5 separate regions of the Homo sapiens genome follow, and regions 1, 2, 3 and 5 are each linked to region 4. The links come from fine-mapping of genetic effects on gene expression. A gene starts in region 4. Each other region holds a variant in brackets. All regions are shown on one strand. Distances are between the middles of the regions.

Region 1 (5,104 bases), 120 kb after region 4:
ACATAACTAAAAATAGAGCCTCAATAAACAGATTCCCAGTTTTGAAAATGCAACATTTGTACTCCACATTGTCAGTTTTCTTAGGTATATTTATAAATACTCCTATAAAAATGTAAAGAAACACATAATGTAGATTGCTAATTTTATAATAACACAAGTTGATTTTGACATCCAACTTATTAATTATGAAATGACTTTTGGCCTAGTAACAATGAAAATGGGGGCAAATACAGATAAATGGTAATTCTTAGAATGAACTACTCAGCACCAATTCTAAGTTTTTCTTGATGGTAAATCATAATGTTCCCTTTCTCCTCGGTTCTGCAATCTATAGGCATACCATAATTGTAATCAATAGCTTAAAAATATGTCTCTCTGTCCTATTCTGTATCTGTATCTCTTGGATTTTTACCTTTGCAATAGTCAACTGAACCATCTTCTTGGAGTACTCATGAAGATGGAAGTCTACATGGAGAATACAGGATGAATCCACTCTGTCTCCTGCAGTGAAGTCTGTTTGAAGGATGTATTTGGCTGTCTTCTGGACAGGCCATTCTAATAACAGAAACAAACAAGTTATTTTAAAACTTATTGGAATATTCAAATATTAACCAAAGTAGAAAAATATAATACACATCCATGTGCCCATCACAGAACTTCACTGATTATCATCATTTAGCCAGTCTTGAAGAAGCAAGTGCTAATTACAATCACAAATGAAACAAGATTCAGACTTCATGAAGAGCACTGCGCTATAATAAAAGAAGAAATGAGCACATACATTCTTTTACTGACAGTCAAATGGTGAAGGTGGGCAGAATCATTATGTGATGCAACATGGCAAAAGTATACAGACAGTGCATCCAGAGGAAGGCACCTTGCTGAATGACTAGAATGGAAGTAGGAGACATTTTGCAGGCCCCCTTCATCCTGCAGGGAGAACCAGAACCACAGCAGCTCTATTTGCCTATTCCTCTTTAAATTACAAAGTTAAAATTTGGGAGTAGTAGAAAATCAATTGGTTATCTTATAGAGTCTCCTAGAATATTTCATTGGCATTGAGAAGGTGGAAAATGCAAATTATATACTTTAAAATGTAATTTTTGCTTTTCACATATGCTTAAAGCCTAAAACCTCTTAATAAACTTCTTCTGAAATATACATTTGTGGGACAATTCTAGTATGTTTTAAATGTAACTGTTTCATAGTGTTTATAGAGAACTCTATTTTTTTCCAACTGCAATCCCTTCTTAACCCAAATTTATAACATGCTGTATTGTATGGATCTGTCAGTAGTGGGTCAGTTAAAAGGAAGAGGGTAGGAGGAATCCTGTCTGGCTGTCATCTGCCTTATTTTTTCTTAGGCCAAGGCTTTTTAGGATAACTAAATTTTTCCTTTAGGTTTCTCCACTTGATTGGAATACCTTTGAGTCATTTTAATCCTGTCTGTAGTAGATGAAGAAATTAGGGAAGTATGAAAAACTTGGTAATTTGAAACAAAAACTTGAATCTGATTTTAATAGAGTAGCTTAGTTCAACATGGAATATCCATTTATATTGAAACTCATTCTTTCATATAGTGTACTTGTAACCCCGACCCCATATCTGGTACTGAGTGACAAGAGGGAAGAAAAAGGAAGGCTTTTGAGAAAAGGCCTTTTTATATGCTCTCTTTGGAATACTATAAAATTCCTAACCCAACCCACCATCAGTAATAGAGAGGTTTTCCTAAGAGAAGCAAGGAATTTTTATTGACCAGCATTGTCTTTTATCTTGTACAATGGAAGACAGTGGGTTGGAGTTAGGGTGTAGAATTATAATTATGGAATAGAGCTATATTATCATAAGGGAAATGAAACAATTTCTGGTTTAACTGGTACCAACTGCTAGCTACTGGAAACCTAGGTACAGATAAACTGATCAGTTTTGCAACCCCAAGCCATGAAGGAGAAGTGACAGTCATTTCAAGAGGTCCTGGCCAACCTCTGTAGAGGTTGTATCTAAACCCTGAATATGTGTGAATTCATGAAACACTTATTTTCTAACATGTTTACATATCAATGGGAGTGATTAGGGATAGGGTTGAGAAAGATTATCCCATAGCTAAATCAATATTTACCTCTGACTTCTACCTCTGCAATTATTGGTACCAAGATTCCTGTCAAGTGAAGAAGGTGAGGAAGATAGATGAGATATTAGTAGAAAAGTTATGAGAGAAAAACTGAGTAGTCTCTAAAGAAATACCAAAATAACCCACACTAGGTTCAGGCAGGAGTTAACATCTAACCAGGTATATACAGAATAATGTCATAGATAACTGGAGAAAATATATTGTAAATCGGGGAAAGGCACATAATGACTTTCTCTATACACCTCTTTGTGTCCCTTCAACCTTTTCTCTCTTCTGTGGCCTTATTTTCTATTCCAGTTTTTCTATTCCAGCACTTCTCTTTTCCTGACTTTTCTTTTGATTTCTATACCTTTTTATATCCTTCCTTCTCTTGTTCTTTCCCTTTAGGGTGCCATGCTTTACTTTTCTCCTTGCCTTGCACTTCAATTTCTGAGGGCAGTGATCTGCTAATGCTCTCACCTCAGTGATACAGATTTAAAAACTACTGAATGATAGAAGAAAGGACTACTGGGTTGTGTATGTCAAAAATATTTTTTGTAGCACATCTATAAGGAATATTTTTAAGACCCTTGTCTAAAAATCATGGCCTTTACATTTATGTTTCTGATTTTTTTTTTTTTTTTTTTTTTTTGAGATGGAGTCTCTCACTCTGTTACCCAGGCCGGAGTGCAGTGGCGCAATCTTGGCTCACTGCAACTTCTGCCTCCCGGGTTCAAGTGACTCTCCTGCCTCAGCCTCCCAAGTAGCTGGGATTACGGGCGCCTGCCACCACGCCCAGCTAACTTTTGTATTTTTAGTAGAGACAGAGTTTTGCATTGTTGGCCAGGCTGGTCTCAAACTTCTGACCTCAGGTGATCCACCCGCCTTGGCCTT[C/T]CAAAGTGCTGGGATTACAGATGTGAGCCACTGCACCTGGCCTGTTTCTGATATTCTTTATGGTCAAGAATTAAACTATTTAAATGTAAGTTATATTTACTTCAATCCTAAGAAATAACTTAATGGGGTATTTTCAATTCATAGCAATCAGAAATAACCTCGGTTGTAAATTGAATCTATAGCGCAACAAATATTGAGTGATAATTTTATACCACTTTTGAATGTTTATACAAATGCCCTAATTTGAAAGAAGTTTGAGTGTTTCATTGAAATAAAATACCATTCCTTAGTGTAGAGAACAAAATGACTGACTTGTTTAAATACCAATCAGGATTTATGTTAACAGGAAGTGGGTGGTCCTGAAAAGATCTTGGTCTTTGTAAGAATGTTTCTTGGGGCTGGGCGTGGTGGCTCACGCCTGTAATCCCAGCACTTTGGGAGGCCGAGGTGGGCGGATCACGAGATCAGGAGATCCGAGACCATCCTGGCTAACATGGTGAAACCCAGTCTCTACTAAAAATACAAAAAATTAGCCGGGCGTGGTGGCGGGTGCCTGTAGTCCCAGCTACTCAGGAGGCTGAGGCAGGAGAATGGCGTGAACCCGGGAAGTGGAGTTTGCAGTGAGCCGAGATAGCGCCACTGCAGTCTGGCCTGGGCAAAAGAACGAGACTCTGTCTCAAAAAAAAAAAAAAAAAAAAAAAGAATGTTTCTTGGTCAAAGTCCAAGTCTTCTGATGGCATTTATTCTTGTGGCTCACTAGGTGGGTGGTAATAGTAAAATATTTGCCTTGGTCCAGTTCCATTGTTGAAAACAAAATTTCTTAACTCCATTTGTTTTTGAAATTTTTGAGAAAGTGGCAATCTTTGTCCACAACCTCTATTAACACATTTTTTCAAGGGCATTTTCTCTGAAAAATCACTGTTGGAATGATCATATAAAGGTCCCAGTGTATGATCTGATACTTCATCAGTACATTCTAAATCTTCCAAATTCATTTCATCATAAGAATAGTGTTGGTGGAAAGGTCTTTACCTTTACAAACCACTTCAACTGAAGTAATGAAAACCTTGTCCAGGTAACTGGTTCTGAAAATCCCCATGAGGTTGAGTACTCACAGCTATATGGAAGAGTTGTTTTTATCTCCAGCCTCTGTTAACAAAACCAAAATCTTTCATTGGAAGTGTTCCTGAAAGTTACTATAGGCCTGGTTATGAACAGTATGCATCTTTTGTCTACAAGCTTTGCTAACAAAATCAAAATCATCTCCAGGGTCTGGTTCATGGAGGTCACTGTGAGGCTGGTGATCATTAAATGGTCTTGGTTTTGTTCTAGGCACCCAGTTAATGATCTCCATCTCCTCTTGGGAGACATTGTAACACTGATGATTAGCAAAAAAAAAAAAAAAAATGAACATCTTGATCCTAGTCCCTTGCTAGCAAAATCCCAGTCTCTCAAGTGTCTCTTTTCTGCTATGCTATCACTACACTGGTATTCATCAAAATCCCTATGCCTTTGGACAGGTTCATTGTTGGCATAATCATAATTCTTTATCTGTACACCATTTTGAGGGTATTGATCATTAAGAAGCCTTGACTTTTTCCCAGACCCATGTGTGGCAGGGGAAATATGCTATAAATTACCAGTATTTTAACAATAAATAAAAGATAAATGCTATTGTATTAGCAATATCTCCCTTTACCCAATTCAGCAGGACACAAGATGACTTTGGTGTGATGTCTCCTAAATTGGGTTGTGCCTCATTTTCATTTCTCCTTTTTATCTACTTGTGAGCCCAAAACACCCTCCCACTGAAGCAGCCTCGTTGTCTGGGGTGACACCTGAGGTTTGCTGTCTGACGGCCACAGAGATCAAGGATGCAGACACACAAAGAGTGAGGTTAAGATCAGAAATTTAACAGGTGAAAGAATAGTTCTCTGCTACAGAGAGGGGTCTTCCAAGGACTCTTTTGCCCTCACTATCTGCCTAAATAATCTCTATCTCCTGTATCACTATCAGCTATCAGACTGTAACTATAAGCTTTAAAAATTCCAAACTTGTTTTGGTGTTAATAAATTTTTAGTAAAAACTGGTGAACACATT
Region 2 (5,104 bases), 110 kb before region 4:
TTAAAACAATAATAACTTTTTTTTTTTTGAAACACAGTCTTGCTTTGTCACCCATGCTGGAGGACAGTGGCACAATCATGGCTCACTGTAGCCCTGACCTCCAGGACTCAAGCAACCCCCTGACCTCAGCCCCTTGAGTAGCCACCTTGGCTTCCCAAAGTGCTGGGATTACAGGTGTGAGCCACTGTGCCTGGCCCCGACAATAATATTTTATCACAGAAAGTTTCAGCTGGCTGAGGTGGGACGACTGCTTGAGGCCAGGAATTCGAAACCAGCCTGAGCAAAATAGTAAGACCCCATATCTATGAAAAATTAAAAAAAATAATAGCCAAGTAGCATGTGCCTGTAGTCCCAGCTACTCAGGAGGCTGAAGAAGGATCCCAACTGAGCCCTGGAGTTCAGGGCTGCAGTGAACTATGATTACACCACTGCATTCCAGTCTAGGTGACAGAGCAAGACCCTCTCTCTAAAATAAATAAAAAGAAAAAGAAAAAGAAAATTTAATACTTAACCAAAGTGCTGAGAATAGTATTATAAATCCCCATGTACATACCACCCAGTTTCACCAACTATCTCTCATGGCCAACTTCCCACTCTCCAATAACCCCTCTATACCCTCACCATTGTTTTAATACAAATTCCAGGCAACAGACATGTTATTTCATCTGTAAATAGCTCAGTAATAACTGCTAAAAGATAATCATATATATTATATATAATATATAATTATATGTCTTTCTCTCTCCACAAATCCATTATCTGGAATATTTCAATGATTTCCTTCATATCAAATAGCCAGTGTTCATATTTTTCCAATTTTTTTTTACCTTGCTCAAATTGAGATGCAAATTAAACCCTGCATTACAAATTAATTGAAGTGTCTCTCAAGTCTCTTTCATTCATGGGTTCCCTTCTCCATCAGTTTTCCCCCTTGTAATTTTTTGTTAAACTGAGTTGTTTATTCTTTAGGATTTCCCAGCCTACATTTTCCCAATTGTGTCCTTATGGTATTAATACTGCTCTTTGTATACCCTATAAACTGCTGTTTGGTATGAAGGCTTTTTTTTTTTTCCCCAACAAGTCTTTATAAGTTGTGGTGTACATGTTCATCAAGGGGATACATAATGCCTGGTTATCTTTCTTTTTGTGATGTTAGCATCTGTTGATGATCATTGCCAAGATCCATTATTCCATTAGGAGATGCAAAATGCTGACACTCTAACTCAATGATTCCTTCGTCATTTATAATCTGGAATAATTCCAAAAGGGAAACTCTCCTTTACCAACTATTTGGTTACCCTGAGGTACAGTTTGTCTATGAAAAGCAGGACAAATGTGTGTCTCTTCCCCTTTACTCATCCATTTTCAATATGAGTAGCTTCTCTAGTGGCCTCCAAAAATGGCCAATGAAGTTTTTTTTTTAAGTATAATTATGAACTCATGGATTTAAACATATTTTGTTGTATTGTGCAGTGATTCCCTTTTTTCTTTTTTTTTTTGAGACTGAGTCTCACTCTCGCCCAGGCTGAAGTGCAGTGGTGCGATCTTGTCTCACTGCAACCTCCACCTCCCAGGTTCAAGCAATTCTACTGCTTCAGCCTACCAAGTAGCTAGGATTACAGGCAGGTGCCACCATTCCTGGCTAATTTTTGTATCTTTAGTAGAGATGAGGTTTCACCATGTTGGCCAGGCTAGTCTTGAACTCCTGACCTCAGGTGATCTGCCCACCTTGGCCTCCCAAGGTGTTGGGATTACAGGTGTAAGCCACTGTGCCCAGCTGTGATTCCCTTTCTTGATGTTTACATCATCCCATTTATGGCCAGTGGAAGCCAGTTTAAGTTGGCTCCTGAGTCCATCTGACATGATAAGATGTCTATTAGTCAGGCCCTGATGGAGACAGCTCTTCCATTAGGTCCACACGCAGCCCTAGAAAGAAAGCTGGTAACCTACGCAAACCTTTACCAGGTTTTTCCTACCGTTTTCATCAAGTTTCTCCTCCGTTCAAAATCTTCAGCCTGCTTTTGAGACTGAACTCCAACTCACCTAGTTGGCTTCAGAGCTCTGCCTAATGGAATGATCCACTTTATTTTTCATTCTTCCTAATGAGACCACCACCTCTGCTTTCCAGCTTGTCTCCTCCCTGGCCCACAGCATGCCATACTCATTCCTGCCTGTCCTCTACCTGGAATACACTCCTAGAGCCTGTCCCTTCCCCAGAACCACTGGATTGCACAACTGCAGGGGCACCTCACACTGTGTACTTAGTAGCATGGAACTTTTCCCCTCTGTTTGTGCAAATCCCATCAGTTGTCAAGGCCCAGGCTGAGTTCCAGCTCTCCTAGGAAGCCCCAGGAACAACCATACTCTCATCTGAGTTTCCCACCTCTGGACCCATCGCTCACTGTCATTTGGGCCCACTTATTTGGATATTTACTGCCCTGAACAGTCACCTTAATGTGTGGGGAGTCCCAGTTCTGGCTCGCAAAGGGTAAAGACTGTTATGTTTCTAAGGTAGAGAGGGTAGAGAGGCTAGTGCCCCTCACAGTGTAGTCTCTTGATAAATATTTTTAAAATTTATCTGATGGACTCAATCTGGGAGGTGGGTTTGATCATTGCTGTTGTTCTGGGTGTTTTTTGTTTTTTTTTTTCTGCAGGGGCGGGTGGGGGGGTGGTCAGGGTTTTGCTCTGTTGCCCAGGTTGTAGTGCAGCGACTTTATCACAGTTCACTGCAACCTTGAGCTCCTGGGCTCCAGCAATCCCCTTGTCTCAGCCTACCAAGAAGTTAGAACTTTTTGAGACAGGGTCTTGCTCTGTCACCAAGGCTGGAGTGCAGTCGCATGATCATAGCTCATTGCAGCCTCAATCTC[C/T]CAGGCTCAAGCAATCCTCCTACCTCAGCCTCCCGAGTAGCCGGGGCCACAGGAACGTGCCACATGCCTGGCTAATTTTTAAAAAAATTTTTGTAGAGATGGGGGTCTCACTATGTGGCTTAGGCTGGTCTCGAACTCCTGGGCTCAAGCAATCCTTCTGCCTCAGCCTTCCAAAGCGCTGGGATTACAGGCGCAAGTCACCACACCCAACCGATTTTATTTTTGTAGAGACAGGGTCTCACTTTGTTGCTCAGGCTTGATAATTTAGAATAGAAAATATAAGAAAAAAATTGTATCAAGTTTCAGGTTAGCAATTTCCCAATATTAACACCTCAGGAACTTGTTTTTTAAAAACTGAAAATTTAATTACAAGGTAGTGTAAGATTTCAGCTGCCATGGAATAGCTCTTGCTTTATCTGTGGGATGCCTGGATGTCTGGATTTTTACTTTTGGCCAAATCTGGCATGCTGCTGGTTTTTGTAAATGAAATTTTATCAGCTCACGGCCACGCTCATTCATTTATATATTATCTATGGTTGCTTCTGCAGAGCTGTGTAGTTGAGACAAAGACCATATAACCTACGAAACTAAAATATTTACTATCTGGCCTCTTGCAGAAAAAGTTTGCAGGCCCAGCACTTTGGGAGGCCAAGGTGGGAGGATCACTTGAGCCCAGCAGTTGGAAACCAGCCTGAGCAACATAGCAAGACCCCTGTCTCTACGAAAAATACAAAAATTTGCTGGGCATAATGGTTTGTGCCTGTAGCTGCAGCTACTCGGGAGGCTGAGGTGGGAGTATCACTTGAGCTCGATAGGTCCAGGCTGCAGTGAGCCATGATCATGCCACAACAGTCCAGCCTGGGTGACAGAGTGAGATCCTCTCAAAACAAACAAACACAGCTGCTTCATCCCAGAGATACTTCTTAAATGGCTAGGTGTGAAGCCCAAGCATCTCCAGGCCCAAGATGATTCTACTGCGTAGTCAGAACTAAGAATCTCTGACAGAAACAGCTCTTTATCACTAAGAAGTCTGAGACATGAACTGCATGAAATCACCCCTACTCCTTAACATCCCATTTTCTTGCCCTAAGATGTCGTCTCTCACTGGCGTCTACAGTGGGAAACAGTTTTCACATTGGGTTAAATCTACTGCACTGAAATCACAATTATTTTTTTAAGTTGATGAGCAACTTAAACCTAATCTGAACTAGCGACTTAAAAACCCAATTTTAGTACAGCATAATTTCTATCTTGGCAATCACCTGCTCAACAATAGATGCCAAGCGCCCCAGGGCCAGGCCACATTCATCCCCTCGGGTCACCACGGCACTGCCGAGCTTCACCACGATTCTCTTGGCATGCTTCAGCTCACTGCGGTGGGCGAAGGACTTGCCATGTGTACGACTGAGGGGTACAGTGATAAACGGGATGTTGCTCCAAGAACGAACATGTCTGATGACTGAAGGCTGGATACAATCTGTAGCCATCAAAGTCAAATGCAAGAAAAAAAGAAATACTCAATATAGTTTTTCAATAAAAATATACATGCTCAGTATTAACCAGTTTAGATACCAAAAAATAGCATTATCATTATTAACTGTGTAAAACTAGCACAGTGTATCAAAAGCTCTATCTAGCGTATTCTTATTTTAGTATTGTATGGAGTTTACACCCAGTATGCAGGTCATAGGCACACTCAAATGCTGTTGGTGAAGAGTACAAACAAATTAATCTCTCTTGAAGACAGGTTGGCAAATTTATCGAAAGCCTTAAAAAAGTTCTCTAAAAAAGAGATTTATCAGAAAGCTATTCATCACTGTTATTTATTATCAGAAAAATCAGAAGCAGAGTAAATGTTGGATAAAGGGAAAAAGATTAACATTTTTAGAATTTTTAATAATGTAGAAAAATACATGTTAATTTCATATACATGTATAAACACATAGATGGATAAAATTAATGAAAAATTAATATTTTATCTCTTGATAGGATTATAAGCAATTTTAAATTTTCTTCTTTGTTCTTTCTTAGATTTTCCAAGTTTATGCAGTAAAGATGCATTTTTTTTTCATAATCAGAAAAATATGGGTGTTTCTAAAGAAACCATATTACTATAAAAAGAGGAAAAAGCCGGCCAGGCATGGCAGCTCATGCCTATAATCCCAGCACTCTGGGAGGCCGAGGCAGAAGGATCACCTGAGGTCAGGAGTTCGAGACCAGCCTGGACAACATGGTGA
Region 3 (5,104 bases), 160 kb before region 4:
TCCGAGGATGAGAATTTCCGAAACTTAATTCCTTCCTTGCCTAAATCTTTGCTGTTCATCTTTTCCTTCAATTATGTGACACACTCCATACCCTTCAAAAAACACAGCTTTTTGCTCATTCGAGCTAACTTAAGTCAGTTTCTGTTGTCTGCATCCACACACAGATGAAAAACCCTTAACTGAAATTACTGTTCAATGGTGCTCTGGATGAAGAGCCCAGGCACCTAAATTCATCCCTTTCCCTCTGACTCCCCCATCCCTGTCATCACGTCTTTAAATCCCAGACTCATTATCCTCTGCTTACAGCCAGCACCAAGGCAATAAGGGGAGATAAAAATGAGAAAAAAATGATGATGATGATAATAATACTTATTTTTTGAGCACCTTTTATACCAGGAATTGTGTTAAGTGCTTTACATAAATCATTTTATTGAATCAAATCCTCATAAACAACTCTGGGTTTGTTAGGACGCTTTTGACTCCATGTAAGAGAAATCCCAAATAAAAATAGCTTAAACGTGAGGAAATGAGTTATTTTCTATGTAATAATAAGTCCCTACCAGGGGTAGCTTTAGGGTTGGTTAAATTAGAAGCTTGATGATGTCATTAGGCACCCCAGTTCTTGCCATCTTTTCACTCTGCCATCCTTAGTTGGCTTGGATCGTCAGCCTGGGTACCCTTGTGACCACAAAATGGCTGTTACACTTCCAGGCATCCCATCTGGACATGACAGTATTTAGCAGAGGGACGATCTCTTCCTTGTATCTTTTTTAAGTACAAGAAAAGCTTTCCAAGAAGCCTCTAGTTGATCACCCCTCTCATCTCAGTGGCCAGAACTGGGTCATACATGCATGCTTAATCCAACCATTGACCCAAAAGTGGTATTATTGCAATGGGCCTACACCAAGCATAATTCACCCCTGAGTTGAAAGAGGAAGAGATAAAACACTCTGAAAAAAAAAAAGAAAAATGAGATCTGGCCAGGCGCAGTGGCTCATGCCTGTAATCCCAGCACTTTGGGAGGCTGAGGTTGGCGGATCATGAGGTCAGGAGATCAAGACCATCCTGACCAACATGGTGAAACCCCTCTCTACCAAAAACACAAAAATTAGCTGGGCGTGGCAGCGCGTGCCTGTAATCCCAGCTTCTTGGGAGGTTGACGCAGGAGAATCGCTTGAACCAGGGAGGCGGATATTACAGTGAGCCAAGATCGCGCCACTGCACTCCAGCCTGGTGACAGAGCTAGACTCCGCTCAAAAAAAAAAAAAAAAAAAAAAACAAAACAAAAACACTATTTTTCAGCAAAGAAAAGGGGAGGAACCCATTCGGTAGTTAACCAACAGTGTCTGCTGCAAACCTTCGAGATACACATGAGCAATTCAGAGGGGTAGAGTGATTTGCCCAAGGTCAAACAACCAGTTAATTGCAGATATGGAGTCTGAATCCGGAACTGTCCATCTCTAAAATCTACTCTTTTAACCTGTATTCTGGGAGGCAGTTAGTCCACACTAAATTCTTTTGCCTTTGAGAAACGCAGGTTGCTAAGGCTGTCCTGATTATTTCATGAAAATAACTGGTGTAGGAGCTACAAATTGATCATATTCAGGAGACCAAGCCACACAGCAAACTTATCTAGCCTCACTGAATCTGTTCCCCACTGGCTCACTCAAGTCTCCTCAAATACAGTGGTGAGGAAACTTAAAAGAAGCTCAATTCGGCAAACAGCAGGCTTCAGTCTTAGATATCTGGCTTTCGGAGTGGGCATCATAAGTGAACAAATATCCTTTCTGTGTCCTTCCACATCTCCTCTTATTGGTATTGCCACCTTTGGGGAATTCTTTCTACCCAATTTCATTTATTTGGTTCTGATAGGGACTTCCAGTGACAGTACCAAGACATCAAGTCCCAGCTATTCAGGAGGCCAAGGCAGGATGATCACTTGAGCCCAGGAGTTTGAGACCAGCGTGGGCAACACAGTAAAATCTCATCTCAGGCCAGGCGCGGTGGCTCATGCCTGTAATCCCAGCACTTTGGCAGGCTGCGGCGGGTGGATCACGAGGTCAGGAGATCAAGACCTTCCTGGCCAACATGGTGAAACCCGTCTCTACAAAAAGTACAAAAATTAGCCGGGTGTGGTAGTGCATGCCTGTAATCCCAGCTACTCAGGAGGCTGAGGCAGGAGAATCGCTTGAACCAAGGAGTCGGAGGTTGCAGTGAGCCGAGATCACGCTACTGTACTCCAGCCTGGTGACAGAGCGAGACTCAGTCTAAAAACAAAAAACAAAAAAACCCTCAACTCTATCAGTCAATCAATTAGTCAGAGATGACATTAAAATCAAAATAGTTAAACAATGGGAAAGCACAGACACCAACCAATCACAAGGGACGCTGGGCTAGCCATTAACTCTTAGTTGTTGGGCCATGGGGAAGTCCAGGGTGTCCCAAGGAGGTCCAGGATGGCCAGGAGATGAGGACAGGGAACTTAGGAGTCTTGGGTCAGTAGGTATTTACCAACAGCTATGGAAATATTTCACTTAATGCGTTCTTAATTATAAATATTGCATGTTTCAGTTCTCGAAAGCCCATTTGGTTCTTTTTTTATAGATTCGAATGCTCTGTTGAAATTCTTTATTTTTCATCTATTGTACTATTTTCTCTATTTACCATGTTTATAATACTCATTATAAAGTCCTTGTCTGCTAACTCAAATATCAGAATCAGTTGTGGGTCTGCTTCTATTGCCTGCTCTTTCTCTACTTTTATTTTTTTTTTCTGAGGCAGGTTCTTGCTCTGTTGCCCAGGCTGGTGTGTGGTGGTACAATCATGGGTCACTGCAACCTTGACCTCCTGGGCTTAAACAATCCTCCCTCCTTAACCTCCCAAGTAGCTCGGACTACAGGTATTGTGACTAAGCCCAGGTAATTTTGTTTGTTTGTTTGTTTGTTTGTTTGTCTGAGACGGAGTCTGGCTCTGTCGCCCCAGGCTGAAGTGCAGTGGCACAATCTTGGTTCACTGCAAGCTCCGCCTCCTGGGTTCATGCCATTCTCCTGCCTCAGCCTCCTGAGTAGCTGGGACTACAGGCTCCCACCACCACGCC[C/T]GGCTAATTTTTTTTGTATTTTTAGTAGAGACAGGGGTTTCACTGTGTTAGCCAGGATGGTCTTGATCTCCTGACCTCATGATCCAACCGCCTTGGCCTCCCAAAGTGCTGGGATTACAGGCGTGAGCCACTCTGCCCGGCCACCCAGGTAATTTTTTAACTTCTTTTTTTTTTTTGAGACAGGATCTCGCTCTATCACCCAGGCTGGTGTGCAGTGGTGCGATCTCTACTCACTGCAACCTCTGCCTCCCAGATTCAAGTGATTTTCCCACCTCAGCCTCCCAAGTAGCTGGGACTACAGGCATGTGCCACCACACCTGGCTAATTTTTCTATTTTTAGTAGAGATGGGATTTTGCCATGTTGCCCAGGCTGGTCTCAAATTCTGAGCTCAAGTGATTCACCCACCTCAGCCTCCCAAAGTGCTGGGATTACAGGCATGAGCCACTGCATCCAGCCTGTTTTTTTCCTTTTTCTTTTTCTTTCTTTTTTTTTTTTTTTGAGACAGAGTCTCACTCTTGTCACCCAGGCTGGAGTGCAATGGTGCGATTTTGGATCACTGCAACTTCCATCTCCTGGGTTCAAGCGATTCTCCTGCCTCAGCCTCCTGAGTAGCTGGGATGACAGGTGTCCACCCCCACGCCTGGCTAATTTTTGTATTTTTAGTAGAGATGGGGTTTCGCCATGTTGGCCAGGCTGGTCTCAAACTCTTGACCTCAGGTGATCCACCCACCTCGGCCTCCCAAAGTGCTGGGATTACAGGCATGAGCCACCATGCCCGGCCCCTGCTTATTTTCCTTATCAGTCACATTTTCCTGCTCTTTGCATGCCTTATAATTATATAAAAGAAAACAGAGGCAAAAGATGATATTATTTTCCTCCAGTGATGAATCTCTTTTTCTTCTGTTAGCAGATGGGGTGAGGGACTGATCACCTTAACCTAGTCAAGAATTCAGCTGGGTTGAGGCTGGGTTGCAGTCTTGGTTAGTCCCAGTCCACCTCTGAGTCACCACTATTCCTTGGATGGAGCCCACTCAAGCTTTTCATTGGCATGTCTCTGTCTTCTCATCCCTGAAAGCCTATGGAAGATTCAGCTCTGTTCTTAGGAGCTCCAGCTTAGCTCTAGATTCTAACATTACACCAGATAACATTGATCATCAAAAACTCTACCAGTTTCTCTTTGCCCCAGTAGAGACCCTATGCCTGGGTCAAGCCCTATCCTTGGCCTGTGCACAGATTTGGCAAATACCCCCTGGGAAGAAAATGGTCAGAGACAATCAGCACATTTAGAAAGGGCTCTTTCCGGCCGGGCGCAGTGGCTCACGCCTGTAGTCCCAGCACTTTGGGAGGCCAAGGCGGGCAGATCACCTGAGGTCAGGAGTTTGAGACCAGCCTGACCAACATGGTGAAACCCTGTCTCTAATAAAAATACAAAATTAGCTGGGTGTGGTGGCACATGCCTGCAATACCAACTACTTGGGAGGCTGAGACAGAAGAATCACTTGAACCCAGGAGGCGGAGGTTGCGGTGAGCCTAGATCGTGCCATTACACTCCAGCCTGGGCAACAAGAGTGAAACTCCGTCTCAAAAAAAAAAAAAAAAAACGGAAAGGGCTCTTTCCTCTCCAGAATTTCAGTTCATTAGTCCTCATTGATGGCACAACTCTGAGGTGTCTTAAAAAGGTGATTTCTGTAACTTACTCTGTTTTTTCTAGTTGCTTCAGCAGGAGTGTTGGATTGTTCCTACATATACATCCTATCCAGAAGAGGAAGCCCTCTGAAACCCTTTCAACATTTAACCATAGTGAGGTCATCCAGATATATACGGCTGAATCAACCCAGAGCATACCATGGCCCCTGCTCCACACCTCTACTACAGTGAGGACAGGTGGCCCAAACAGACTAGAGTCTTTTTGCAGCGAAACTGGGGACCATGAGCCTTTTTATTTTTACAGTGGGTGGAAAGTCTGACAAAGCTGTGAGAATAAGTCTGGAAGCTTCCAATGGCTA
Region 4 (5,104 bases):
CCTGTAATCCTAGCACTTTGGGAGGCCAAGGCAAGCGGATCACTTGAGGCCAGGAGTTTGAGACCAGCCTGGACAACATGGTGAAACCCAATCTCTACTAAAAATACAAAAATTAGCCAGGCTTAGTGGTGCGCATCTATAATCCCAGTTACGCGGGAGGCTGAGGCACAAGAATCACTTGAACCTGGGAGGCAGAGGTTGCAGTGAGCCAAGATCACGCCACTGCACTCCAGCCTGGATGACAGAGTGAGGCTCTGTCTCAAAAAAAAGAATGTAAGAACGTAGTAAAATAGGCCAGGCATGGTGGCTCACGCCTGTAATCCCAGCACTTTGGGAGGCTGAGGCGGGCGGATCACCTGAGGTCAGGAGTTCGAGACCAGCCTGACCAACATGGTGAAACCCCATCTCTACTAAAAATACACAAATTAGCTGGGCAAGGTGGCGGGCGCCTGTAATCCCAGCTACTTGGAGGCAGAGGCAGGAGAATCACTTGAACCCGGGAGGCAGAGGGTGCAGTAAGCTGAGATGGCTCCATTGCACTCCAGCCTGGGAGACAAGAGTAAAACTCTTGTCTCAAAAAAAAAAAAAAAAAAAGAACCTAATATCCTAATGTAATAAAGTAGAGAACCGTTGCCACAGCACCCACCAAAGTGTGTCTCTCATTGACAAGCTCAGGTACTTGTTTGTCTGTTTCTCCTGCCTACCCCTCAGCCACTCTGGATCTTCCCTTTGATCATTCTTTTCTCTTTCTAGCTTTGATGTTTTGGTTTCCATTCTGTAATTCGCACACTATTTTGTGGACATGCTCTTTTCAAATTTCTCTCCAAAACAATAGTACAAAGGCAGTCATAAACCAATTGTTGGTTTTTACAAAAAATCCCATCATATCACCAAAAACCAGTTTTATCATAACAGGATGAATATCAGACCAATATTCATTATTAGAGATGTAGTCTAAACTGACTCGGGAGAAGACATCCATTGAGTCTTTCATTCAGTGTAATTAGTTGTTATCATACATGCAAAATCCTATAACTATAAAGCATTTCAGAAATAAAGTATTGTTAAACAGCTCCAAATTTATTAAAGTATAAAAAATGTATTGAGTATATACCATGTGGCACCGTGCAAAGTAACAGAGATGCCTAAACTAAAAGGTTATCCTTTGTCCTTATTAAAGTATGACTGAAAGCTCGCTGGAGAATATAGTTTCTACATAGAGTCAAAACAGTCCTTCGGGCTCACAAATTTAATGATTTATATGGTATAACTGGCTTTAGATACAAATTTACATGCCAGACAAGCAATGTAGAAAAATCAAGAACTAGGAAACAGGAAAACAGATCTACATTTCTGCTTTGCTGCAATTCATTCATTTTTTTCAACCATTCATCAAATATTTATTGAGAGCCCATGCTGTGAGAGAAACTGTATTAGGTGCTGGGGAACATGGTAGCAAATAAGAGAGACCATGTATGTGAGCATGAGCAGGTGGCTTAACCTCTCCACATCTCTAACCTCTTTTAGACTCAATGTCTGAGGTATCTTTCAGACCTGAAATGCTAAGGTTTGCAACAGCCTTGTGGAGGGAGAAGCTGCCAAGTCGCCTTGGGACTTGAGGACTTACCTTCCTTTCAAAGGATTAGCCCTTGTTTTGATTTCAAAATAATTTTGTTACACAGTTTAAAAATAATTTGGTCAGGCTCTCATCTACATTGGGGTAATCTTGACGGTCTGGATGTGGTAATTCATGCTCATTAGACTTCAAAGGTAGGAAGTCAAAGTTGGGAAATGGTGGATGACTTTCATCAATTCATAGCCAGGCAGCGGTTCCCATTGAGCAGCTCCTCTGTGGTTCCACCCAGCCTTCCAACCAATAACGCAGCGTCTCCTGCAGGAAACTCATCGCTTGGGTCACCTGTTGCTCTTTGCTCTAATGAGCCTTGAGAAAGGATTGCTGGTCATGGGACCAGAGGCTTTATGGGGAGGGAAGAACTGTTCTTGACTTTCAGTTTTTCGAGCGGGTTTCAAGGTAACAACTTTCTTATTATCTAGCTTCATAATTGCAGTAAGGAATAGCTTTTTTTGCTTGCAGCTGAGATGACTTTTTCAAGGGAGAAAAAGGGATTTCTATAACGAAGAGAGGGAGAGAGAGATGAAGAGGGAGGGAGTAAGGGAGAGAGGGAAGAAGGGAGAAAGAGAGAGAGATTTGAATATACATTGCTTCAAGGATGCAAAAAATTACAACCTGGAAAAGGCTTCGAGTAACTTTAGGAAAATGAGCTGCTGGACTCCTCAGTCAATCTGTCCTTTCTAGTCAATGAAAAAGACAGGGTTTGAGGTTCCTTCCGAAACGGGGCCGGCTAATTTAGCCCCTCCCACGAGCCCAAGGGTCTGTTATATCTCTGTTTCCTTGAGGACCTCTCTCACGGAGACGGACCACAGCAAGCAGAGGCTGGGGGGGGGAAAGACGAGGAAAGAGGAGGAAAACAAAAGCTGCTACTTATGGAAGATACAAAGGGTAAGACCAAAATTGATTTGATCTGAATCCTTAAGAAAAAAAAAATAGAAGGAAAAATAAAAGCCCAGACCAAAAAGCAAGTACTTGAAAGCTGGAGGCAAAAAGCCCTGAATGAACTTTCCCACCCTCTTCCTTCTGAGAGGAGGCAGAGAAAGAGCTTTGGGAAACTTTTTAGGAAGCAGAGTCCAGGGTTGCAGTCAAGGGTGGCTCTAGAGCAAGCTGGAGGGGCTCATGAATATTCATTATCAATTTGTATTCAGAGTTGGTTTTTTTAGAGGCAAATGACTTTTTCAGTCCCCTTGCAGTTTAAGAGGCAGCTGCCTCATCTGCAGTCCGGACTCATCTAGCCTCGGGTCTGTACCTCAGGGTGTTTGCTTGAAGATGCTGGGCTCTGCGTGTAGATTTGTTTTGTTCTCGAATTTCTTGCATGCTTTCCTGTTGTGAAATTAGCAAAGGCTTCTTTGCTGGGAACAAGACAGAGAAGTTAATGTGGCACAAGGCTGTCACAACAGGACCCCAGAGTATGTCTTTCAAAATGCTGAAAGTTTCTTGAGATATGTGGGGGAGTTTTATGTGGGGGACAGAGTGGGGGACGGGGACGGGTAGAGGGAGGAAATAGAATAATTCTATCTTAAAAGGGCAGGTCACATCTGACTACATTTAGATTTTGTCTAAAAACTACAAGAGCAGCCTGGTTTGCACAGATGGTGTGCAGTCTCTATCTTTTACCTCTTTTGGGCATTTTCTGCCAAGACGGAGAGCCAGCTGCTTGCCAGCGTGTGAGAGCCAGGAAGAATCTCTGCAGCAGTGAGGGAGTATAGGGTTGTAAACCTCCTTCTCCTCCTTCTTTATCATCTCTAACTTCTAACATTCCCACATGCTTATACCGTATAGAACATGGAAGAATAGCATGAGTAGCCAACATATTTCTTAATACTTACAATAATGATAGCTGTTAATGTTGACTAAGTCTTTATTCTGTGTTGGGAGCTATACCTAGCATATTACATGTGCTACTTACTTGTCACATGAACCTTACAAGTGCTATCATTGACATTCCCATTTTCCAGATGGCATAATTGAGGTACTGAGAGGATAACTTGCCTTGAGATCTCATAGTTAGTAAGGGCTGAGTGTGGATGGAGGTGGTCTGAGGCAGGGCTGGTGGGCTTTTCCACTCCCCAATACTGTTTCTCTGCTTTTTCTGGTGCCCTGACATTGTGGATTTCAGGTTTGCAAATCCTTGAAGCTACTGGGGAAGTGATACTGGTAAAATCTTAAGTCTGTGAAGGAATTTGTACTTTGCACTCAAGTTCACATACATTTTCCTCATTTGGTGCTCATGGCCATTCTCTATGAGAAGCAGGTATTGTTATTATGGTCTTTTGCAAAAAGGAGAAACTGAGGTCAGAAGGGGTTAGTTTGGTGACACCAGTCACAGCTAGTTGTCAAAAGTCTGGACTGGGGGGCTGGATGTGGTGGCTCGCACCTGTAATCCCAGCACTTTGGGAGGCCGAGGTGGGCGGATCACCTGAGGTCAGGAGTTCGAGACCGGCCTGGCCAACATGATGAAACCCTGTCTCTACTAAAAATACAAAAATTAGCTGGGTGTGGTGGTGTGCGCCTGTAGTCCCAGCCACTTGGAAGGCTGAGGTAGGAGAATCACCTGAACCCGGGAGGCAGAGGTTGCAGTGAGCTGAGGTTGCACCACTGCACTCCAGCCTGGGCGAGAGTGAGACACTGTCTCAAAAAAAAAAAAAAAAAAAAAAAAAAAAGATTTGGACTGGATCTGAAACCCTCTGCTTCTGGTTTTTCTTCCAACCTACAGAGCAGACCCAGTCATCTCTGAACGTCTGTCCCCACCCCAAGCTGCGCCTCATTGAGTTGCTTTCAGTTCCCCAAAGGAACTGCATCTTTCCTCAGACTGAAGCTAGGCACTTTCTTCTGTTTTAAGGGCCTATCTGGTACTCTGCTTCCCCTTTAGTCTGGAGCCGAGCTGCCTGGGTTTGAATTTCAGCTCCACCATTTACTGTGTGCCTTAGTTTCATCATCTGTAACATGAAGAGAATAACAGTAACATCTATCTTACAGGGTTGTGGTAAGGACTGAATGAGGGATTCATGCAAAGTTTTTAGAACAGGGCCTGATATATAGTATTGCTAAATAAATATTAACATTTGCTATCACTGCTTGAAGCCTCATATTGGGTGTTATTCCCCTTTAAGCCTTCTCTAATCCTTCAAGTCTAGATTAGCCCCCATCTTGGATGCTTCTATAGTACCTCATCAGTTATGCCTAAGGTGGCACTCATCATACTTGTCCATGCTCCTGCCCTCTGCATCACCTTCTCTCCCTTCCAATTATATTTTCTGTATTCACCTTTAGATCTGCAGTGTCTAGTGCAATTTTATTTTTAGTCTCTAAACTTGTGGCAACTTTCTCATCAGTGTGGGCAGAGTGGTGGGAGAGGGGCCTCAGTCATGATAGGGGTACAGGAGGTAGCCACAGAGGATGACCATATAGCAGTCATAGAGGGCCAGAAGCCACGCAGGAAGTGGACATATGCTGAGTACTGATTCAGGA
Region 5 (5,104 bases), 110 kb after region 4:
GCTTATCCCTGACTGCACTGACAAGGGGGAAGAAAGGCTGAGCAAGAGCCTGGAAGCTTGCCATTCTCTCCAGGTATTTTGTCTAGAACATGAAAGAAATGTGGTCAGGGCCTTCATCAAGAGTTGCTCAAATATGTCTCAGCATTTTACAAAATGCTTAGCGGTGGTTTTTTGCATCTGGCGGTGATCTGTGGAGGAAGATAAGCATGTTAGAGTGGAGGCAATTTGAGACCAGGCCTACATGTGGCTGCTGAGGAAGCAGATTTAGGCTGCTCTTTGAAAAAAAATTACTTCTGGTTTAGATTAAAAGTTCTCATCCTGGCTAACATGGTGAAACCCCGTCTCTACTAAAAATACAAAAAAAATTAGCCGGGCATGGTGGTGGGCACCTGTAGTCCCAGCTACTTGGGAGGCTGAAGCAGGAGAATGGCATGAACCCAGGAGGCGGAGCTTGCAGTGAGCTGAGATTGTGCCACTGCACTCCAGCCTGGGTGACAGAGCAGGACTCCATCTCAAAAATTAAAAAAAAAAAAAAAGTTCTGTCAGGTTTCCTCTCTTATCCACATCTCATGTTTTACTTCATAAGACTATGTTAGGCTGGGAATGCTTATATTTAGACCTGTAGTTCTGCTCAGGTAAGTCATGTGGGGAGTTGTTCAGAGGCCCTGGAAGTAAGCTAAGAAGGGCCTGCATTTGGGAGAATTCCTGAAGCATTTGGGGAAGGGGTTGCAGGGTTAGACCCCTGTCTTCACCCAGAGCCTACAGCATTGAGGTGGATGTTATGACCCAGGGTTCACTTTCCCAAGCTGCATCGTCCACCCAGGTAGAAAGCATAGTTTTGTCAAGTACATTGTTAGAAGGTGACTCTTTCTTCTTTCCCTCCTAACTTCATCATGGACTGCTACTCCAGTATGGCTTGTGTTTGGGAATGTTCCTCCTAAACACCTTTGGTAGAGAGATAATTAACAATGTTTAAGCATGTACTATGTGTTGACAGTGGTGGACATTTGCTTGCTGTGCTTTATGCATATCCTATCATGCTGCCTTCCCCTGCTTTGGCAAGGGAAATAAAATGCAAACCACACCTGCTGACACTCAGTCAGGTACCTGAAGCCATTGGGTCTCTGAAGTGGAGGGACCAGGAGAGTGAGTGGAAGGGAGACTCCATGGTTGTCTTCTGGCAGCTTCATTAGAGGGCTAGTAGAATCTTTCAGCAGCCAGAACACAGCCAATTTTCTACTCTGAAAATCTGGTCATCCAAGATCTGGTCAGCCCAAGTGAACAATGTGATCAGATTCTATGTGTACTGATGACCAGTTATATTTCAGTGTACTCTGGATCCTCACATTCAGCCTCATGAATATTTAGCCTTTCTAGGGAAAGGCATCCCATTCTTGAAGATCCATCAATGCCCCTTTATGTGGAGGGCAGAAAGAGGATATCCATGAAGAGAAAAGAACCTCATCATGTTCCACTGCCCTGGGAATAGAAAGGAGAGAAGAGAGAGGGGAAGGTGGGAGAGAGAGGAGAGAGGAGAGTAGACTTCCCCTCCCAATTTGGAGAGCACATAGTGATCCACCCACAGGCATGAGCATGATCAATTCTGGATTGATGAAGAAGGTGGATGCCTTTTTGGCTTCTATATTTTTGGCTACTATCATAACCTTCAGGAGGCCAGACTGCATAGCCAATGTACAGATTTCCAGAAGGAGGAGGGGAATAGGAGTATTAAAGAATTCAGGGAAATTAGGCCAAAATGGCATCTCCCAGCCCCCCACAAGGGATAGGCCAGCCTTCAAGGACCTACAGGGGCTCAGCACTTTCAAGTTGGACCTAAGTAGATTCTTGGGATTTTGTGTCCCATAGGCATCCTTCAATTGACAGGCCCAAGACTACTTCAATAGGGGAGGAGGTCTTTTCACAAAGGGAAAGCAGAATGCAGTGACTGAAAGGAAGGGGTAGGAACCTGGACAGGCAATGCCAACTGATGTCCACACCAAGGTCTCAAGAGGATGTCACATGCAGAGGAATCAATCAAAGGATAATTTCCAGAACTGTGCTGAAAAGACAAGCTCCAAGCTGGGTCATTCTGAGAATTTCATCAGAGCAAGACAAGGCAGTCTAGTTATGGACTTATCCTTCCAGAAACTGGGGACAGGCAAGAACCAAGTGAGAAACAGACCCCAGCCAGCGGTTAGGATTTGCATATGGGTTAGGACCCACGGAAGGGAGAGAAATCTGGGAAAAGAGGGGTGTGGTTTAGGCATCAAGGAGATACTACATATAAAACATCTGGCATAGTTCCAGATGGTACATGATGCATGCATAACAAATGTTCTCTCTCTGCCGAGGGTATCCAGGAGGGAATGCCTATCTGAAGGGCTGAGGAATGGGGCAGCAGACAGAAGTCCAGGCTGAACTAGAGAGGTCCTGGCCTGTTGTCCTCAAATTGAGGGCAGGAGAGTTGCAGAGCAGGCTGTGGGTATCTGGGTGTATATTCACAACAGCTAGGCTAGGTAAGGGCAAGGGATGGCAAGCAGCTCTTAATATTTTTAGTAGGGAGTAGGATGAGTAAACATAGGAAGGACTCAAGGAAACAACCACTTTGCATGACTCAGATGCAAAAAAAGACATTAAGACAGAAGATAGAAGGTGAGATGTTGGCAGTGCTAGCAGTCCTCAGCAAAATGCTGCCTAAACTGTGTCCACAGCTGTGTTTCTCAAACTTTACTGTGCACGTGAATCACCTGGGAATCATATTGGGATGCAGATTCTGAATTGGTAGTTTTAAGGTGAGGACTAACCAGCTCCCAAGTGATGCTGATGCTGCCAGTCCAGGGACTAAAGTGAGTGGTAAGGCTTTTTATGGCTGTGGGCCAAAGGCTCTGGTCAAGAGCATATAGAAAACTCAGATTAAACAAAGTCTAGGGCATGAACAGAGGTACTGAAATTTAGTGTTTCAGAACCT[A/G]CTAGACCACAGGAACTACTTTTTTCCTGGAGGACCTGTTATTATCTCATAGAAGCCTGTGCAGGAAAAGCTTCCTTAAGAGACCCTAAACTATAAAACCCTGCTCCCACTGAAGGAGTGCAGCACCACCCCCAAAACCCTCTGGAAGAGGCCAACCTTCAGGTGCACTGGAGCTGGGGCTTTCCCCTCTCTTCATCAGGGCTAGTAGAGAAAAAGAGGGCCACAGAGAGGTGCCTATCATACGAGTATGATCTCCCCCTCACTTCACTTCTAGATAAAAACATCTTACGCTGGAGTAAAGGAGAAGTACCTGAGTGAATACTGCTTTTCTGGTACCTACATTCTCTCCCTCCTTCTGCAAGGCTATCATTTCACAGCTGATTCCTGGGAGCACATCCATTTCATTGGCAAGGTAATTTGGGGGCCTGTTGGGCTGGGGGGAGGTTGGGGTTCGGTGGTAGTGACTGAAGCAGTTTGGGGCTTGAAAAAGGGGGGAGTCAGCATGGTGTAGCTTTGGCTTGATGTCCTGTTCTGCCATTCTGCTTCAAACCCTGGCATTCTGTGTCAAGCCCTCCTGGGTCTGTTGGCCCACTGTGAGCATCCTCGCTAAGGACAGCTACTTGCATTTTCAGTTGCACCTTCCCACATAACAGTGACTAATTCCTTACAAAACAAAACACAAAACGAGATATATTAAAGTAACAGCATTTCAGCAGCTACAGTGACTCTGTGTGCTGACTTCAGCAGCCCTCTGAAAGGCCCCTTCCATAAGCTGGGAAAGTATGATCATGGTTTCATCATCCTTGTTGGTTATTACTTCAAGGTTGACCAATCTGAAAGCTCTGTGTGAAGAAGGGGACTGAGTGGCTGTGAATGATGAGACCGTTGTTTAGAAGCCAGGCTTAGCCTGAGTCCGGAAGAAGCAACCTCAATGCTGTGCTTTACCATAGCACCACCTGCAGGTATCCAGGAATAGAGAACCCAGCTGAGCGACTCATGCTTGACCAAAAATACCCAGAGCAGTGTGTCTCTACCTTTTTAAGCCCATGCTCACTAGTGGGGAAAACATTTTACCCCCTGTATTAAATATGGTGATTTCAAGCAAAACAAAGCATTGAGACAGAGGGCTGTAGCAGGCCTGAGGATAACAGTGTCCTTACACTCTTGTCAGTGCTGATCTTGCTAATTCAAACTTAAATCTTTTCCTTGTTATAATATTCCAGACTTCCTTTAATTCCAGCAGTTTATTTTGTTTGAAAGATTATACCTATGTCAAATTTAGGACTGACACACGAGGTAGTCATGATGTATGTGTGTGTATATACTTTTTTTTTAAGAGACATGGTCTCACGCTGTCACCCAGGCTGGAGTGCAGTGGTATGATCACAGCTCACTGAAGCCTCAAACTCCTGGGATTAAATGATCCTCCCCACCCAGGCTCCCAAATAGCTGAGACTACAGACATGTTCCACCGTGCCCAGCTAATTTTATTTTTTAGAGAGACAGGGTCTCACTATGTTGCCCAGGCTAGTCTCAAACTCCTGGCCTCAAGTGATCCTCCCTCCTTGGCCTCCCAAAGTGCTGAGATTACAGGCATGAGCCACTGTGCCCAGCCAGTGATTTATATTGTTTGAACTCTTCCAATGCATGATCCAATAATTCTAAGCCCTAGGTGATAACTCTTCTAACTCCTCCAACCACAAACAGACTTTCCCCACTGTTTGCAGATCCAGGGCAGCGACGCCGGCTGGACTTTGGGCTACATGCTGAACCTGACCAACATGATCCCAGCTGAGCAACCATTGTCCACACCTCTCTCCCACTCCACCTATGTCTTCCTCATGGTTCTATTCTCCCTGGTCCTTTTCACAGTGGCCATCATAGGCTTGCTTATCTTTCACAAGCCTTCATATTTCTGGAAAGATATGGTATAGCAAAAGCAGCTGAAATATGCTGGCTGGAGTGAGGAAAAAAATCGTCCAGGGAGCATTTTCCTCCATCGCAGTGTTCAAGGCCATCCTTCCCTGTCTGCCAGGGCCAGTCTTGACGAGTGTGAAGCTTCCTTGGCTTTTACTGAAGCCTTTCTTTTGGAGGTATTCAATATCCTTTGCCTCAAGGACTTCGGCAGATACTGTC

The links. PIP is the estimated chance that this variant, and not a neighbour inherited with it, causes the effect. A credible set is the group of variants that fine-mapping cannot tell apart.
Region 1: its variant is the best candidate, but not a certain one, in a credible set for the expression of ENTPD1 in whole blood (TOPMed, PIP 0.50).
Region 2: its variant is the best candidate, but not a certain one, in a credible set for the expression of ENTPD1 in whole blood (INTERVAL, PIP 0.82).
Region 3: its variant is the best candidate, but not a certain one, in a credible set for the expression of ENTPD1 in whole blood (TOPMed, PIP 0.56).
Region 5: its variant is the best candidate, but not a certain one, in a credible set for the expression of ENTPD1 in whole blood (TOPMed, PIP 0.75).

Annotation. Positions count from the first base shown.
Region 1 is chr10:95,876,106-95,881,209 of GRCh38, forward strand. It overlaps ENTPD1 (ectonucleoside triphosphate diphosphohydrolase 1), which reads left to right. Exons shown (of 10, transcript NM_001776.6): 10 at 1-1,161. It overlaps ENTPD1-AS1 (ENTPD1 antisense RNA 1), which reads right to left. Exons shown (of 6, transcript NR_038444.1): 3 at 413-555. Among named protein-coding and RNA genes, the nearest start is that of CC2D2B, 29 kb to the right of the region's middle. The variant C/T (reference allele first, on the strand shown) is at 3,005.
Region 2 is chr10:95,638,863-95,643,966 of GRCh38, forward strand. ALDH18A1 (aldehyde dehydrogenase 18 family member A1) reads right to left here. Exons shown (of 18, transcript NM_002860.4): 3 at 4,130-4,344. Among named protein-coding and RNA genes, the nearest start is that of ALDH18A1, 15 kb to the right of the region's middle. The variant C/T (reference allele first, on the strand shown) is at 2,868.
Region 3 is chr10:95,588,907-95,594,010 of GRCh38, forward strand. No RefSeq gene overlaps it. Among named protein-coding and RNA genes, the nearest start is that of SORBS1, 30 kb to the left of the region's middle. The variant C/T (reference allele first, on the strand shown) is at 3,098.
Region 4 is chr10:95,753,735-95,758,838 of GRCh38, forward strand. ENTPD1 (ectonucleoside triphosphate diphosphohydrolase 1) reads left to right here and starts at 2,429. Exons shown (of 10, transcript NM_001776.6): 1 at 2,429-2,521. The coding sequence starts at 2,506. ENTPD1-AS1 (ENTPD1 antisense RNA 1) reads right to left here. Exons shown (of 6, transcript NR_038444.1): 6 at 1-2,980. RefSeq lists an enhancer at 1,990-2,289 and a silencer at 3,620-3,679.
Region 5 is chr10:95,861,482-95,866,585 of GRCh38, forward strand. It overlaps ENTPD1 (ectonucleoside triphosphate diphosphohydrolase 1), which reads left to right. Exons shown (of 10, transcript NM_001776.6): 9 at 3,243-3,380; 10 at 4,696-5,104. The coding sequence ends at 4,902. The region is part of intron 3 of ENTPD1-AS1 (ENTPD1 antisense RNA 1); the gene reads right to left. Among named protein-coding and RNA genes, the nearest start is that of CC2D2B, 44 kb to the right of the region's middle. RefSeq lists an enhancer at 3,763-3,992 and a silencer at 3,811-4,105. The variant A/G (reference allele first, on the strand shown) is at 2,969.